Linked DNA regions of Homo sapiens. The protein of the gene in region 1 binds, or shares a complex with, the protein of each later gene. Each region holds a gene or a part of one and is shown on either strand. Other genes may lie near its edges. The genes, in order: CYFIP2 and NCKAP1.

Region 1 (8,996 bases):
TTTTCCCCCCAGAATAGGGTACTTTCATCCAAATTAAAAACCTGTTCAGGCAATTAGTTATCCTTTCTCCTCCATGATTTTGTTAATGGCATCTGATAACTTGTCTGCTATCTCTTGGTCAGCAGAAGCTGCTTCTCCTGTTATCGTGACATTTTTTAAGCCAAACCTCTTTCTAAAATTATCAAACCATCTTTGCTGGCATTAAATTCTTCAGCTTTAGATCCTTCACCTTTCTTTTGCTTTAAATTGTCATATAATGACTTCACTTTTTCCTGACTTATATTAGAGTCTATGGGTACGTCTTTCTTATAGCAATCTTTATAGCAACGCACCCACCTAAAACCTGCATTTTCAATATGAGCTAAAATGGTATTTAACAAAAAGTGCAAGGTTTTCATACCTGCTGGGAGCCGCAGCTACGGCTTCATGAATTTTCTTTCCTTCTTTCTCTCTTTCTCTTTCTTTCTTTCTTTTTACAGTGGTCCTTATGCTAAATTCATTCATCTTAAAATGATGGACAACTGCAGCTGCAGACCTCAATCTATGGTACATATCAAGAAAATTCAGCTTTTTTCTTGTAATGTTATGACTTTTCTCTGCTTTTTGGGAACACTTTCAGCATCACTAGTGTCACTTCATGTGGGTTCCATGGTGTTATTCAAGGTTTGCTGTATTACACTAAACATGATGAAAAATGTTTCATCATGAGAGATGAATTGCTCACTCAGAGATGATTAGCATCACACAGCACTTGAAGTGGATACTGGCAACACTTGAGTTCACCACAATAGCAACAAGAGATGGCCACAGGCCAGGCGTGGTGGCACACACCTGTAATCCTGGCACTTTGGGAGGCCGAGACGGGAGGATCACCTGAGATCAGGAGTTCGAGACCAGCCTGGCTAACATGGTGAAACTACATCTTTACTAAAAATACAAAAATTAGCCAGGTGTAGGGGCACATGCCCATAATCCCAGCTACTCGGGAGGCTGAGGCAGGAGAATCACTTGAACCTGGGAGGCGGAGGTTGCAGTGAGCCAAGATCATGCCACTGCACTCCAGCCTGGGCGACAGAGTGAGACTCTGTCTCAAAAAGAAAATCATAATAATAATCCCATTTTTGAGCATTTATTATGTACCAGACTCTGCTTAGTGTGTTACATTATCATTTCATATAACCTTCACAAGAATCTAAGGGATATACTTTTTTGTTTTGTTTTGTTTTGCTTTGTTTTGATACAGTGTTTTGCTCTGTTGCCCAGGCTGGAATGCAGCCGCACCATCTTTGCTCACTGCAACCTCCACCTCCTGGGCTCAAGCAATTCTCTTGCCTATAAAATGAGGCAATTTTGAGCAAGTGGTCAGGTTCTATCTACAGAATGGCCAATGTAAATTCTGTAACTGACCATCAAGTTTATCTTTTCCTGCCACCCACATAAATACTTAGAACCAAATGTGTTAGCAAGCTCATAGCAGGTAGAGCTGTGATTGATTTTTGTTTTGTTTACATTTTGGTCTTATGTACATTCGATTCTCCATCTCATCTCTCTACTCTTTTCCTTCTTTTTAAAAAATTTCTTGCTGATTTTTAATTTTTTAACATAATGTATTCCTGTAACTTACATTTAATATGTTTTTAGAATAAGGTAGCATATTAGTAAACAAATGGACTTAGCTTGGAAGAGGGAAAGTGAGGCTGTATGAGATTGTGGTAAAAAGCATGGGTTTGACTTCACTACCTTGGGCAAATTATTAAACCTTAATTGCCTCAATTATAAAAATGGGAAAAATGATTGTATTTTCCTTATAGAAAAATTACGAAAAATTAAATGAGGTAATGTACTTGGTAAATGTTAGCCATTATTATTATTATCATTATTTATGTTTTCCCTTCATGCCCATTCCAGATACTTCATTACTGGTGTCTATAAAGCAGGGTCTCCTGATAGTTTTAAAATACATATATATATATATATTTTTTTTTTTTTTGAGACAGAGTTTTGCTCTTGTTGCCCAGGCTGGAGTGCAACAGTGTGATCTCGGCTCACTACAACTTCCACCTCCCGGGTTCAAGCAATTCTGCCTCACCCTCCTGAGTAGCTGGGATTACAGGCGCTCGCCACCATGCCCAGCTAATTTTTTGTATTTTTAGTAGAAACTGGGTTTCACTATGTTGGCCAGGCTGGTCTCGAACTCCTGACCTCAGGCAATCCACCTGCCTCGGCCTCCCAAAGTGCTGGGATTATAACTTGAAGCTTTTCTAAAACACAAGGTAATGTTGCCACATGGACAACATGTGGGCCACAGCTTTGCAAGTACCAAAGCAATTCTTATTGATATCCTCTACCATTTCATTGCTGATGCACAGCTTGGGGTTGGATGTGAAGGAAATCTGAAGGCAGTAGACAGACAGCTATACATTTCAGTGGCAAAGTTTAAAAATGTCACCTATGGGTGTTCATTCCATCCATTTTTACTGAACTCCTGTTAAGTACCAGGCTCCAAGGATGCAATGGGAAAGCAAGACAGACATATCCCTGCTCCCTTAGATTTTATGGTCTCATGGTGGAATACAGGGAAGTGTGTTGACAATTATAATGCAGACTAATACGTGGGGTGATAGAGGGAGCCCAGGCAGCTAAGGACACATAGACAACTAATCTCAAGCTAACCCAGACATGTAGGAATCTTGGAGGAAGCGACATCTAGAGGAATACCAGGAAGATGAACAGAACTTCATCAGGTAAACTGGGAAAAAGTGTGGAATGTGGAGGGAGGGAATGGGGGGACAGAAACTGCCATTGAAGAAGCCTTGCATGTACGAATGTCGAGCACAACAGAGAACACAGCAAGTTTGAGGAACTAAAAGCTGTTCCTTTTAGCTGAAGCACAGCAAGCTTGTTCACATGGAGAGATAGCTGCCAGCTCTTAAAGACCCTCTCCGGCCACTGGAGAGTTTGGGCTTCATCGGGGGGCAGTGGGGAGCTAGGGAAGTGCCTTAAGCCTGGGAGGGACGTGCCCTTTAACTCATGTAATTTTCCACATTCAGAGGGAAGTTGGAGAGCATCCAACTTACTTCACTTAACAGGTGAGGAAACAGGGGTGAGGCTCCTTGCCTAAGATCATTCTTCTGTTAGTTGCAAAACTAGAACCAAAAGGCAAGCCTCTGGATTTCCAACACAGTGGCTTCAAAAGACCATACTGCTCTCCTTTATACACAAATAGAACTCAGAGGTCGGAGTTATTTTTGCCTAAGATCTAACCAAATATATATGTAATAGTCTTTTCTGTTTTTAGGCAACTTGTTCCTGAAGGTGAAAAGACAGGGAAGGAACAACAGGGAGAAATACGTCTTCCAAAAAACTATACCATCTGCAATAATATGCCCCTTAGAATGAAAATCTGATTTATTGGGATTCTCATTGTTAAGTATTTGTAATCACTGAACTTGAAATCCCAAGGATCACGGTGGAAAATGAAACATTTTTTAAAAAGGAAACCTCAGTTCTGTTTTTAAACCCATCCTCCACAAACACCCCCACAGCTTTTCACACTGAACCAGGGAAGAAATGTATGTGTGTGTATATATATATATATATAAGTCATTTTTTTCCGAAATAGCAATTTGAATTGGAATTAGCGATTTAAGATCAAACCACAAGGAATTATGGATTCTGAGCACGTGGGAAATAAGGTGAGATCAGTAAAGGAAAGCAAAGGCTTCCACAAGTCCTTTGCTGGAGCTTGAATAACGGGGCTCCTCCACAAATTGCCCTTATTAGGAACAGCTGAGTGATTAAGTATAAATTTGTGGGCCTTAGGAAACCACTCCTTATATCTACATACACTCCACAATGTCTCAAATGTTTTCAAATTATTTACCCTGTAAGGTATAAAGGGCAACTGTTATTCCCTGTGTTGCAGATACGGTGACCTCTGTGGAGCAGAGTGGTGAAGTGACCTGCTCAGGTGTCTCAAGGTTAGAATTTGGTGCAGCCTGACTTCAGCCTGGTCTGAAGGCCTACCAGGCTGGATTTCAATGAGAATTGTTTCTTTCTCTTTTTCTTTTCTCTCTTTCTTTCTCTTCTTTCTTTCCTTCTCTTCTTTCTCTCTCTTTCTTTTTCTTTCTTCCTTTCTCTCTCTCTCTCTCCCCCCGTCTCTCTCTTTCATTCTTTTTTTTTTTTTTTTGAGACAGAGTCTCACTCTGTCACCCAGTCTGGAGTGCGGCGGCAGGATCATAGCTCACTGTAGCCTCAATCTCCCAGGCTCAAGCAATCCTCCCACCTCAGCCTCCTGAGTAGCTGGGACAAAAGGTGGATGCCACCACACCCATCTATTTTTTTTTTTTTTTAATTTTTAGTAGAGATGAAGTTTCGTTGAGTTGCCCAGGATGGTCTCCAATTCCTGAGCTCAAGCAATCCTCTCTCCTCGGCCTCCCAAAGTTTTGGTATTACAGGTGTGAGCCACCGCTGGGCAGATAATTGCTTCTTTAAAGAGCCCGACACGGCAGATAAGCCTTGAAGAGAAAGGTACCTGTCCTCTCAGTGCTTCCTGCCACCTATTTGTCCGTTAGGCAATTCTTCCAGAATGAAGTTGAGGCAGGCCCCTGTAAAAGAGGTGGCAGCTTCAGGGACTCTTCTCCAGGGAACTGGAAGGGAGCGGAAGAACTTATTCTTAAGCGAAGGAGCCCTATCAGCGACCAAGCTCAATTGGTGGAAGGCCCCTTCCCCTAGCCCCAGTTGCATCTTCTGTCACTTCACCCTGCTCCTTCTCCTCAGAGCACTTTGGGCTGTAACTGGACGTTTGCTAGGTTAATTTACACCTGTTTCTCCTGGCAGGTGATAAAACTCCAAGGGGGCAGGACCCTGTCTTTTGTACACCAGTGCACACCCAAGTCCTGGCACGGTACTTGGAACAGGATAGGTAATCAATAAAGACTGGGTTGATAAAAGAGCACTTGGAAATCATGTGGGGCCAATAAGATCCGAACGCGGCCGAAGCTCTCGTCCTCGGGTTGCTGCAGGTGTGGTTCCCGGTGATGGAGGCCGTGGAAGAAGCCTTCCCTCCCTTTCCCGCCCCCAGGGCAGGAAGCCTGGGGGCTGAGCGGTCCTCCGAAACCGAGAGGCAGGTCCTGGGTGCGCCGGCGGTACAGCGGAGAGCGTGGAGAGACCCTCGCCGCAGCCATTTCCTGCCCTTTGTGTGACAGCCGCTGCGGCGAAGGGGCGGGCGCTGGGTGGGGGCGGAGCCGCGGCGGGCGGAGCAGCGGGGCCGGGGCGGGGCCGAGCGCGGCGCAGCGGAGCGGGGCAGAGCATCCTGCGCCCCGGCGCGGGGCCCTGCGGTAGCCTCAGGCCCCTCCCCTGGACCCGCCGCAGAGCCAGGTAAGCGGCCCTCGCAGGCCTCGGGCCGGGCACGGGGACTAGGATGCCGCCGGGGACGGGGATGAGGCCGTGAGGATGCGCGAAGGGCCGCCCCCTCTCCCGGCCCGCGGGGGGCGCTCGGCGCTGTGCCCGGGCTAGCCCGAGGCCCGGCCTCAGGCCCCACGCGGCCCCTTTCCCCCTCGGACCCACCGTGCGTCCCGCGGCACGGACCCTCTGCCCGGGAGGCGCGGGCACATCGCGGAGCTCCGGCGCGGCGGCGGGGGAGCCGCAGCAGCAGGTGCGCGGCCTGGGCCGGAGCCGCCAGCCCGGGAGGAGGCGGTGCTAATCTCAGGGACCGGAGACACCTGCAGCGGCCGCGAGCCCGGCAGCGGCGACATCCTCGAGTCCAGGTACTGCAGAGCGCTGGCCCCTGCCTCTGCCGCCGTGACCACCGTCACCTCCCCCAGGGCCAGCGAGAGCCGCCTGGGCCCGCCTGGCAGCCGCCTCGGGCACACAGAACGTGTGATGGGTGGGGCGAGGGGCGCAGCGTCGATGTTTGGGGGCGGAGGGCTTTGATGAGAGAGGAGCAGGTCTGACCCGCTTGGAAGCTTTCTGGCCTACACTAGCATCGCTCACCAAGCTGGCTGCGGGCACGGTGGAAGTGGGGGAAGGGGATGAGTGGGCTGACTCCTGGGGGAAAAGGTGGTTTTTTTCTTGAGCTCTGAAGAACCAGGAAGATGCTTGCCTGTCTGTTGTGGCGTCTACTTTTCAGGTCAGCCCTACCCCTCACCCCAAAGAACAGCCCACCTATGTGCAAAAGAAGAGGAGGAGGTGCTCTCTGCTTGGGGATGGGGGCAGGTAGCATGTTCCACATAAGTATGGCCCTCTATATCCAGAACCCGGCTGGAAAGGACACTGACAGCCCAGGTGCCTCCCCAGCACAGGGAATCTGATTTTGACCTTTGCTTGCCTACTTTCCCCAGCACAGTGGAAACACTCACCAGGGCTGATGAGCCATCAGCTGTCCTTCCAGCTAGGCCAAGAATGGGACAAGGATCTTTTTCTGCTAGTTCCTGGGTGCCTGTGCCCTCAGCATGGGCAGGGAGACGGAGGCAGGCCTGCTGGCAGGAGGGGCAAATCAGGAGACTGTCGGTTCCTGTGTTCCCATTTCCTGCCTCCTGTCTGTGTCCCAGTTAGGGCAGTGGGTCTCACCTTACTCTTGGATACAGGCTGTGCCAGCAACCTGGGTCCCTGAGATCTTAGAGGGCAAAAATCAGGTCCATATCTTTGGGCAGGCCTGTGAAGGCCTTGATGGTTGCTTTCTCCACCATTAGACCCTCTCTCTGTGGCCCTCCTGGTGGCCTCCCACCTCCACTTCCATACAGTGCCCTGCCCTTCCCCCAGTCTCCAGTGTCAGAAATGGTTTTCAAGAAAGGAGCCAATGATTGTGTTTATCTTGAAGAGCTAAATACAAAAGAAGTTCCCATTTGATGCAGAGCAGGTGCTTTACAAGTCATTTGACCGGAAAAGAAACAGAGGATGGAGGCATTTTAATGGGAAACAAAGCTTTAATGGGAAACACTGTAGAAATATTTGCTATCACTAATGGTAGAATTTCAAACAGTGGGCTGGAAGTGGAGGTGGGGAGCTGGGTAGTTCTTTTGGGAACGGGTCCCTGAAATGACAATATCTAGCAGCTGTCAGCTCTGTATTTGGCAAGGGCAGCTTTGGCCCTGCAGGCAGGAATGCTGTAAGAGTGTGTATGCATGCATGTGCATGCGTGCATGTTTGTTTGACTGGTCAGGTGTTACTGTCACCAGAAGGCATTTTTTGAGCACCCAGTGTCCACTTTCGGGATGAGAAACTTGTGTACACAGGGTTCCTCGTTGGCATTGGCTGCCCTTTGCCAAGGCAATTATTAGACCTCAAGAAGATAGTGTTGTTGCTTACAAAGTCAGTGCCTCTAGCTAGTTGTGCGCACTGAGCCTCTGGCTGGGGGCATTAGCTCTCTGCTCACTAAGCTTCTTTATTATATTTCCTGGCCAGTTCTGACCGGTTCTGTAGGCACCCAAGGCTGCCTTGTTCAGTCCCTGCTGGAAAATGAAAAAGGAAAAACTTGCTTTAGGCATTAGGCCAAGAGTCGGATGTACAACCCAGTGGGGTTGGAGAGTTTTACTCAAATCAGATGCTGGCCCAGAGAAGGAAGTAGACATGAATTCAAAAACCGGTAAAAGGCCCTGGTAGAACACTACATGACCCCTCTGATAAATCATGCCCTCTCTGATGTTCAGTGGCCTCTGCTGCTGTCATCAACCAGAAAGCTGAATGAGATGATGAATCGGCTACAAGCTAATTAACGGGAAAAGCGCTCCTGGAAAACAGTACGGGTCCCAGTCCCTACGTTTAAAGATTGGACTACACTCTCAACGCAGCTTCTTTGGACCACTGTTGGCCCCAGGGGTCCACCAAAAGCGTCACAAAATGGCCTTTTGTAGCCTCCATGTGGCCACCGTAACAATGAGTCTATTTCTTTACTGGCAAGTATTAATTATTCACTTGTAATTGACAAAGCCAGACATCAGTCACCTCACTGGAGTCTTTATGAAAGGCTTTTGGTCCTGTCATTCTGAGGAGCAAAGCCATGCCTAGGGTCCAGGGGATGGCCCCTGCATCAGTAGTGAGATGGTGGGAGAAGGGGGGCAGGCTGCTGCCTTCTTGGCAGTGAATGGAGGCAGGGGAGGAACTAGAATATCTTTGGATGCTCTTACTACCCAAGGGGTGCATGAAAGTGCCGAGCAGAATGCTTAGCACATAGTAAGTACTAGCATATTTATGTATTTATTGTTATAATGTATTAATTACATAATCATTAAGAATTTGGCTTATGTATGTAATCAACCCTTGGCTATTACCAGCCCCTCTCCCTCCAGAGCTTTCCTGAATTTTGCTTTTTTGAGGGAAGTTGGTCTCTGTGACCAGTAAACCCAGCCCCAAGTTTACCGGCCGAAGGAAGGGAAAGTTAAGAGTGATAGGGCATGAAGTGAAAGGCTTCAGGTGGGAAGTGCTCTTAAGTAGCACAAGAGAGGTGGGTGGAACCTGAGTAGGTAGGGAGAAGTGGGAGGGAACAAGCCAAGCAGAAGCCCAGGGCCATTCTCACATTTCAACACGTAGAGTTAAGGAAGGGCCTCTTCCTCTGTGAGAATTCAGCATTTTGCAACCATCCAAAAATGTTGAGGGCATGCTTTGCTTCCAGGGCAGACAGAGCAGCACAGTGAGCATGGGACACAGGATCCCTGACTTGCTGTGTGCCCTTAAACCAGCCACTACCTCTCTGACGTTCAAAATTGAGCAATGGAAGGCAGCCTGCCCAACTGTTACCTGCCTGTCATCATGAAAGCCTGCGGATGAGGTAATGTCTGTAAATCCCAGTCTGAGAAAAAAAAGCCGTGGAAATAGAGAAGGAGCCTCCTGAATGTGTGACTCTTTTGGGTAAATGCCCTCCATTCCTTAAGAAACAATTTATTAATTATATATTGTGTGTCACTTTAAGAAGATGGATCTGTGGCCTCTCTGTACTGTTGAGCCAATGGGAAGCTTAAAGGCACTTTGTGATTCACAGATTCTGTCAAGGCCCCTGG
Region 2 (8,493 bases), on another chromosome or scaffold:
GATAATATCTACTTTAAAGGGCTATTGTAAGCATTAAAATAAGATCATGCGTATAAATTGATGAGATGGTGGGGAAGAAGAGGCTACCACAAAGTAGGCATTCAGTGTAAATGGTGGTAGTTTCTCCAGTATTATTAGGCTATTTGGTTTCACTTATAAAATTGCCTTCAAAGAGTTTTTTCATGGCTTTTATGAGTATTATAATATCAGAACTTCCACTCATGCAAATGTAACATTTGTGTGTTAGTCTATTCTATAGCTCTGATCGGAGTCTTTATCTTAAATGGGAAAGATTATTTTCCCTGTCATGTAACTTTAACAGAAAACGATGCTAAAATTAATTTTAAGACTGCTCTATACTATATGTATGTTATACTATATTTTTATATACTATACACAAAAATGTATAAGATGTAAAGCTTGTATTTTCAAATGTTATTGCAGTATCCAGAACAATTGCGACAATTGCTCTTGGAAGCTTCTGTGCTTTTCCACATGCTGTTCCCTGTCTCTGGAATGGAATGTTCTCTTATTCTGGCTGGCAAACTCCTGAACATAATGTAAACAGTAAGCTCAAACATCACTTGCCCTTTCCTTACCATGCCATCCTGTTTCTTCTAAACCTTATAAATGCCTTTATTATAGTACATATTGAATCATAATGTAATTATTATTTATCTCTGACTCCTTTGATTCTGGGACTGCCTTGAGGTCACGGTCTAGGTTTATTTCATCTTTCTGTCTGTTTAGTCAAATTTCCTACCCTGTGTAACTCTCAGAATCTTACTTTAAGTTAGGAAAGGCCAGTGGCTGGACAGATGCTACAGACCTCCATTGGTACAGATGCCCTTAGCTTCATGTTGGGAACAAGTGGTTCTGTTTCTTTTTGTTCCTGTGGAGAAGCATCAGAGATACAGGCAGCTGGGGATTTCTACACCTGTAATAGCAGCAGCTCAGTGATGACACAGAGACATGTTTTTTTTTTTTTTTTTTTTTTGACAGAAGGCGAAGGGGAAGCAAGGTACTTCTTACATGGCAGAGGGAAAAGGAGAGTTGGAGTGGGGGAGGGGGAGAGGGAGGAGCAGGAGCAGGGAGACGGGGAGGGAGAGGAAACTGCCCCGAAGACATGGTTTCTAAGATTTCTCCCAATGAGACAAATCACTTGTCTGGGATGTCAGGGGGAGAAGATGCAGAATCTGAGCCCCTTGTATAAATAGACAAAAGGTGAAAGCATTGGCAATAGATCAAAAAGGCATTCCACGTAGCAAAAAAATTATTTTTAAATCTGAAAATTTAAGTGAAATGCCAAGAGCAAAGAAGAGAGGCCATCAGAAAAATTTCAAAGTGACTACTCAGGTCATTGTCCTGAAATAAATGATCATTTTATTCTGGTGACTCACCCCTAGCTAGAGTCAGTACTTCATAGAAAAGACAGGAGCTGTGAGACACTTAACTGTAATCTTACCCCTTTACAGAAATGCCTCCTATAGTCAAGCTGGTCTGATGATCTCATGTCATCATGCACAAGGATTAGCAAGCCTTGAAATTTTATCCTGTCAGTGTAACTCCTCATCTAGTCTCAAGATTGCACTGGCAGTTCTTTCGCAGCTGATCGTACAGGGAGGACCAATAAGGCTCATAGAACACCCTTGGAGAATGAATGCCTCTGCTGCTGGAGGTCACAGCACCCAGAAAGTGACTAGAGGGAGCAGCTGATACCTGCTCTAGTGAGTTGTGCTATTCCTGTCACATCCTTGCAGAGGTCCAAGGGTTGCTGGCAAGTGAAGGAATATCATGCCTGTAGTTTGAAGGATAGATCACTCAACTCTCAACTATTCTCTCTTCAGCTGTGAACCATACAACGTTTTTGAAAAGCAAAGTCTGAACATTTGCATTCTATACAGAATATTACAGTTGGAAAATAGGTGTGGTGTCTAGAGAAATGCTTCTAAATGCTGCAAGCCACCCTATGTGAAGCCTAGTCTAGAAATCTGCTTTGCTTCATTTATTAACTTCATTGTATCTTTGGAAGTAGAAGTTCTTAAAAGTGTGTACAGAAGATGAGTCCTCAGCATGAGTTTCACTGCCTGTCTGTGTGAGAGGAAGTGACCTTGAGAGCAGCTGTAGCCCTAGGGGGACACCCAGGTAGAGGTGCTCACAACATGCTCTGACACCCGGTATGGCTGCATTCCCAGCTTAAATGATCACATCTGCTCTTGGTTTTTTCACTGTTTACAAAATCTGATTTCTTTAAAGGGAAGGGATGGAAAAGGTAGTCAATGCTCCTCTGAGCACCCAAAGCATCCCTCCACAAGAACAAAGAGGAAAAATCATTACTTGCTCCCAACATTACACAAAGCGCATCTCTACCAATGGAACTCTGCAGTGTCGGTCTAGCCATCAGCCTTTCCCACCTCACAGCATATTTTCTGTGGGGGTAATTTATTAGAGGGGAATTTGTTCCTTTTTACTCTTTTTACTCTTCAAATTAGTAATAGAACCCCTCATGTCATTCTAAGTGACTTAAGTTTTAAAGGGAACCAGAAAAGGAGAGAATATGCTATTGTGGCACTTCTAAAATGCAGAGTGTCCTCAAAGATGGTTATAGTGGGTAATGGGTTTCATATAAATTGCATACTAGAGTATCTCCATTTCCTCTTTTAATTTTTTAATTGGTTTTTTAAAGCTTGATATGCTGAGTTAGTTTTCATTTAAAAACAATGCTTGAGTAGGAAAGTTAAAGAAATAGAAATTGCCTGTTTTAATCTATTCATCCTGGCAGCAGGTATGTATTGTATCTGTCCAGAGTCCAAAACGTCAGCTCCCTCCACTTGCCTTCCCCATTTCACATAAACTATAAAAGTTAGAAATAATATATTATGTCATATCCTAACATCAGTTCAATGAATATAGTTTTTAAAATACCTACTATGTGCTAGATACTGAGGACAGAATGATAAAATACAAAACAAAGCTAACTAAAAACACAGTTTAACTAGTCTTGTCTACGATTACCTGCCCTAACTATAACTTCATTTAAGGGGAGATACTGCTAAAGGGAGTTCCTTCTGTGACTGCACACTCTGATACCAATATGTGACTTCTCCCTGGCTACAACTGATTAAATGAGGGAAGAAAACTGATCCAAGGGGAGTTAGTCCAATAGCTTGTAAATGGTGGGTTCTTATCAGAGTTTTCTCACTAAGTTAGAACCAAGAGGCTGAGGGTTGTGGGGGCTACTTAAGCAGAAAGTTTCATGGAGTATGGACTGTGCACCATTGTGAAGTTTCCTGTATTTCCACAGGCTGTGGGGGCAGAGAGCATCAGAGTGCTGATCAGGAAAAAAGAATGAGGCAGATGCAGACAGAGAAGCAAAGAAGCATGAGAGGATGAGAATTAGGAAGTAGACTCTTTTTTCATTTTAATTAATTTGACTAGATTATATTTCTTGCAATCAAAAGGGCCCTGTGCAGAGAAGGTCCTTATCTTCGTTCATTTTTTGTTGCTATAGCTGAATACCCGAGACTGGGTAATTTATAAAGTAAAGAAATTTATTGCTTACCATTTTAGATGCTGGGAAGTACAAGGTCAAGGGTTCTCATCTAGTGAGGGCCTTCTTGCTAGTGGGGTCTCTGTAGAGTCCTGAGGTAACACAGAGCATCACATGGTGTGGGGGTGGGATTCACCAGAGAGAGCCAAACTGACTTTTATAACAGACTCACTTTTGTGGTAACTAACCCACTCCCTTGATAGCCCATCAATCCATTAATCTAGAAATAAATTCATTCACTCATGAGGGCAGAGCTCTTGTGAACCAATCACCTCCCAGAAGTCCCACCTCTCAACACTGCTGCACTGGGGACCAAATTTCCAACACATGAACTTTTCGGGGACACATTCAAGCCACAACAGTCCTCAATAAATATTTGTTGAATCAATAAATACACAGGACATAGTGTCCTAAATGCTTGGCATGTACATGAACCAGATTTGGTCCTTGATGTCACAGAGCTTATAATATAGTGGAGGAGACAGACTTTACATGTTTGATCTTGACTGTAAAACTAGGGTCACTACTCATCATCTGATGAAGGAGGCAGACAGTAAAACAAATAACAACTATTCAACATGGTAACGTCAAAACTGAACAGAGGCTCAAGTGAAAGTTTCAATGATAGTAACCATGGCCAATGGATAGGTGAATGCATTGGAAAATTAGTATGATGCCATTAGCAAAAACATAAATTGCACTTAACTAAAGTTCATCTGGCTGAATTCTTTCCTTCCTTCCTTCCTTCCTTCCTTCCTTCCTTCCTTTCTTCCTCTATCTTTCTTTGGTTTTGAGATCTGTCTATAGTATTGTGCTAGTGCACATATTTTAATTTGGTGCAAGGCATGCTTAACAGAGTAAGTGAAAAGCTATAAAGGTTAGAGCGTGTATTAGTTTCAATGACGAAGGAGTAATAAATCATTTTGTCAGGTTGCACTCTAACATTCAAATTCCATTTTTATTATGGCTAACTAGCCAAGCATTTATAATTCTGAACTCCACAGAATGGGGAAAAAGTGTATTAACTTATAATAGATCATTGAGCTTGTTAAATGTACCTTTCCTAATTCGTACTTTTTCCCTTTTGCTGAGAAAAATGCCTTTCTGAATATATAATTTTTACAGGTCATTGGAAAGGAGTACTGCACAACAGGATTATTATAATGTGCTAAAAGATGGCACTTGTATCTCATTGCCACATAGAGAGCTCATGTGAAAACTCTTTGATCTTTGCTGGCTTTTTAGCTGAAAAGATTTGGAAATCTTTTTGGCACTGGCAAAAACAGAACTGTGGTAACTGTTTATAGTTGGTTGATTTTTAGCAATGGGTAAGAATGTCTTTGTTGAATCCAGTTTATTAATACGTAATGGGCAACATGTTGCCTTAAAGGCAAAAGCATATTTTTCTCATATCAAAAAGCTCCCTAAATTTTTGCCAATATCCAAAGATATTTTAAGATGGTCTTCATTTTCTTTTTCAGTCTGTCCTATGCTGAGAAAAAAAAATTACAACCTCTGAACTTCAGCAGTTTTTTAGGTAAAAGGAATTTTTCATGATGTGATTGATATAACTACTCAGCTGGACATAAGCTTTCAAGGGCTAAGTCCATTTGCCGATTTGTTTGCATTTCCTACTCCAACTAAAATAATTCAAAGACATGAAGTGTCTATTGTGGAAAATGCATGAATAATGCAAAAGTCATTCTCAAGTGACCTATCAGAAAGGCCTACCAGAAATGCAGTTACTGCTTTCTAATAAAATCATGAAAAACTTTTTTAAAAAGTATAACCATCTTGAATTTGTTGAGGCAATTATAAGAGAGTATATAAGGGCAAGTTTCTCCAAAAGCGGTTCTGTTTGTTTTGTTTTTTTTTAATAATTCCCATCAACAGCAATCTGTTTTCTCATTGTAGTAGTATAGGTGTTAACATAAAAGCTCAAACAGCTTGGGAGAAAAAAAAGGATATAGCAAACCTAACTGATAACTTTGCTAGTTTCAAATCATTATGATGGCCATTCATAGATGACTGAAATATTTAACATTTGAAGTAACAGAATTTTGACTTATGTTTTCATGGTTTAAGAGTTTATATTTCAAATTTTTTCACATAGTCTGTTTATAACAGTATATAAAACATGTATTAACTATATAAGTTAATAAAGTCATGAACTGATGGCCATTTTTTGGTCTTATTCATATAGTATAGGCTGTTTTGTGAATTAATCCCCTTCCCATGTGTTTGAATTCCCCACTATGTAAGGCTTAGTGGTGTTAGCATGATCCAAGGGTGGGATTTTCAGCCCTCTGACATCAAAAGGTGAAGCAGAGGACACAAAAACCCTCACTGCATCTTCCCTAGACTGGCCAGAACCACTCCATGGTCAGTGGACTCCCTTAATAGGAAGGAATGCTGGTCAGTTGTCAAAGAGCAAAAAGGGAGGGGTAGTCATGAGGTTGGTTGTAATCAGAGGTGCAACAGGTCTTTCCAAAGGGCTGGTTTCTGTTTAACTCTTAGGAAAGAACACCTAATGGTAGTTAGTGAGGAGGGGGTATAATGAGATGTGCCCAACCTCCCATCCCATCATGGCCGGGAACTCAGTTTTTAAGGTTTCCCTGAAGTCCTCTTGGCCAGGAGAGGGTCTGTTTAGTCAAATGTGGGGGGGGAGCTTAGGATTTTATTTTTATTTCCAAGTTATAATGTTGGACCATCAGAGCATGAATACAGGTTGAGTCTTTAATCTGTAAATACTTAGCAATCACCTTCTTCTCAGTAACTTTCTCTGAAGGTTGCTGATAAGCCAGTGTTCTTGATGTTTGCCCACTTACCCCTCAAGATGAGGAGTGAAGAAATTAGATTGCATTGCCAGGAATTTCCTAGAAGAAAAGGTTTTGAGGATGCATGACCTATGAGGGTGCTGAGGACCCCTTTCCACCAAACATGGACTAACTTCTGGGTTGCTCTTTCACATCTATTGTCTTGTTCGACGTACACAGAAGTGCAGAGCACAGCCGCAGCCCTCACAGCATCATCTATCTAGGTTCTGAATCCTGAATGGTCTGAGGCTCTCCTAGAGCTGAGATTCTCCTTTGCAGTTCCAGTGGAGAAAAGCACTTTCTTTGCCGAGGCAGTGTAACTTCCTTGTTCCCAAGGCTCCAACTGTTGTGGGCACATATGAGTATACATTAACATCCATGCCCAATTTATAATCACTGTTTTCCCCACATGTGTACTCAGACCTCCAAGCTTCTGAAAAATATTTCCTCTCATCTCTCAAAGAATTTTAGTACATTTGCCTGGATGCAGAAACACAAATCATGCTGGCTTTCCTACTCAATCAAAAACTGTAGCTTGAGTGGGGTGGCAAGGGTTGTCCCACAGCAGGTTTACTTGGACTCCAAAATGATGTAGAGTTTAGTGAGGCAGCTCCTTGAGTTTGAACTTAGAGCCCTTTTGGCTACCAGGGCACCTGCAGTCCTCCAAGATAGTAGAGTCTGAACCAGTTAAAGAGCCAGCTACCACAGCTTTGCAGAAACCACTGTTTCTCCTTAACTCTAGGGCTCAGCGGTTGAACTCCTTAGAATAAAACTTTCTGTCTGCGACCCTATCATTTTCTTTTGTATTTTGGCCTTCACTGAATTCCCACCCCATCCATTCCAACAGACTTGGTTATACGTGTCTGAACACCAAATGTGACAGAATTTGTGGCCTTGGATCAGGAGGCTATTTGGCCCTTATCTAAATCGGTGGCTGAGAATGGATTCCAGGGAAGTGTTTTTCTTAGGAGTACCCAAGAAGCTCAGCTCAGGTTGGGCTCCCTGTTCTATTCTGAGAACTACAAATCAAATTCAAAATGGAGCACAGAAAATTCTCATTTCTAGTTGACTTATTTGTATTTTGGTGTCCTGTGCCCTAAATATCTTCTCAAGGAAACCTTGGCTTTAAAAGTGATTGTTTACTTAAACAAATAAAACAACAACATACAAGAAAAGGCAGTAAATCCGAGCGTCCATCAACAAATGAATCAAAAAACAAATGAGATATATATGTACGGTGGCATATTATTCAGCCTTAAAAAGGAAAGAAATTTTGACACATGAGACAATATGAATGAACCTTGAAGACATTAATTATGCTGAGTGAAATAAGCCAGCCACAAAAGAACAGATATTGTATAATTCCTCTTATATTAGGTACCTAAAATAGTCAAATTGATAGAAAGTAGAATGTTGGTTGGCAGGGGCTGGCAAGGAGAGGGAAATGAAGAGAAGGTGTATGAAGGGAACAGAGTTTCAGTTGGGGAAGACGAAAAAGTTCTGACAGTGGATGATGGTGGTTGTTGCACAGCAACATGAATGTACTTAATGCCACAGAACTGTATGCTTAAAAATGGTTGAAACGGTAAATTTGATATAATGTGTATTGAACCTATTTCCAGATCAAAACAGAGAGATCTACATTCCTTTTGGTGGTGTCAAAATAAACCATTATCTTGAAATAGCCTAAATGTGTTATGTGTCCTATTGAACAGTCCGATTGCATTCTTCAAAAAAATACAGTAGTGAACATCTGAATATATATATTTGAGCACTTGGATAAATATATATGCTTTAAAAAGTCCCAGAAATGTGGTACATTATCATATAACAGTTGTACCAGTTGACACTCCCATCTGCGATATATGATCCCTGTGTCCTCATGGTCCAGCAATGGATATTATCCAATTTTTTAACCTCTGTCGATTGGATAGATGAAAAATATTGTCTGAGTGAGGTTGAACATCTTTTTTGTATGTTTATTGACTTGTAAGAGGTCACTTATTAACAAAATGTACACATATTAATGAAATTGTTTTTGTCTATCACATATTTGGCAAATGTTTTCTAAACTTATCATTTGTCTTTATTTTTTTTTTAGCCATACAGAACTTTTAAATAGTTAGG

What was found.
Region 2: CYFIP2 (region 1) and NCKAP1 share a complex: the UniProt entries of both Homo sapiens proteins name them as parts of the WAVE1 complex.

The regions. Positions count from the first base shown.
Region 1 is NC_000005.10:157,260,817-157,269,812, forward strand, and holds the start of CYFIP2 (cytoplasmic FMR1-interacting protein 2), read left to right. Parts: upstream 1-5,306; 5' UTR 5,307-5,379; exon of another isoform or gene 5,380-5,768; intron 5,769-5,964; exon of another isoform or gene 5,965-6,130; intron 6,131-8,507; exon of another isoform or gene 8,508-8,767; intron 8,768-8,996. UniProt on the Homo sapiens protein: Involved in T-cell adhesion and p53/TP53-dependent induction of apoptosis. Does not bind RNA. As component of the WAVE1 complex, required for BDNF-NTRK2 endocytic trafficking and signaling from early endosomes.
Region 2 is NC_000002.12:182,908,674-182,917,166, reverse strand, and holds the end of NCKAP1 (nck-associated protein 1), read left to right. Parts: 3' UTR 1-8,052; downstream 8,053-8,493. UniProt on the Homo sapiens protein: Part of the WAVE complex that regulates lamellipodia formation. The WAVE complex regulates actin filament reorganization via its interaction with the Arp2/3 complex. Actin remodeling activity is regulated by RAC1.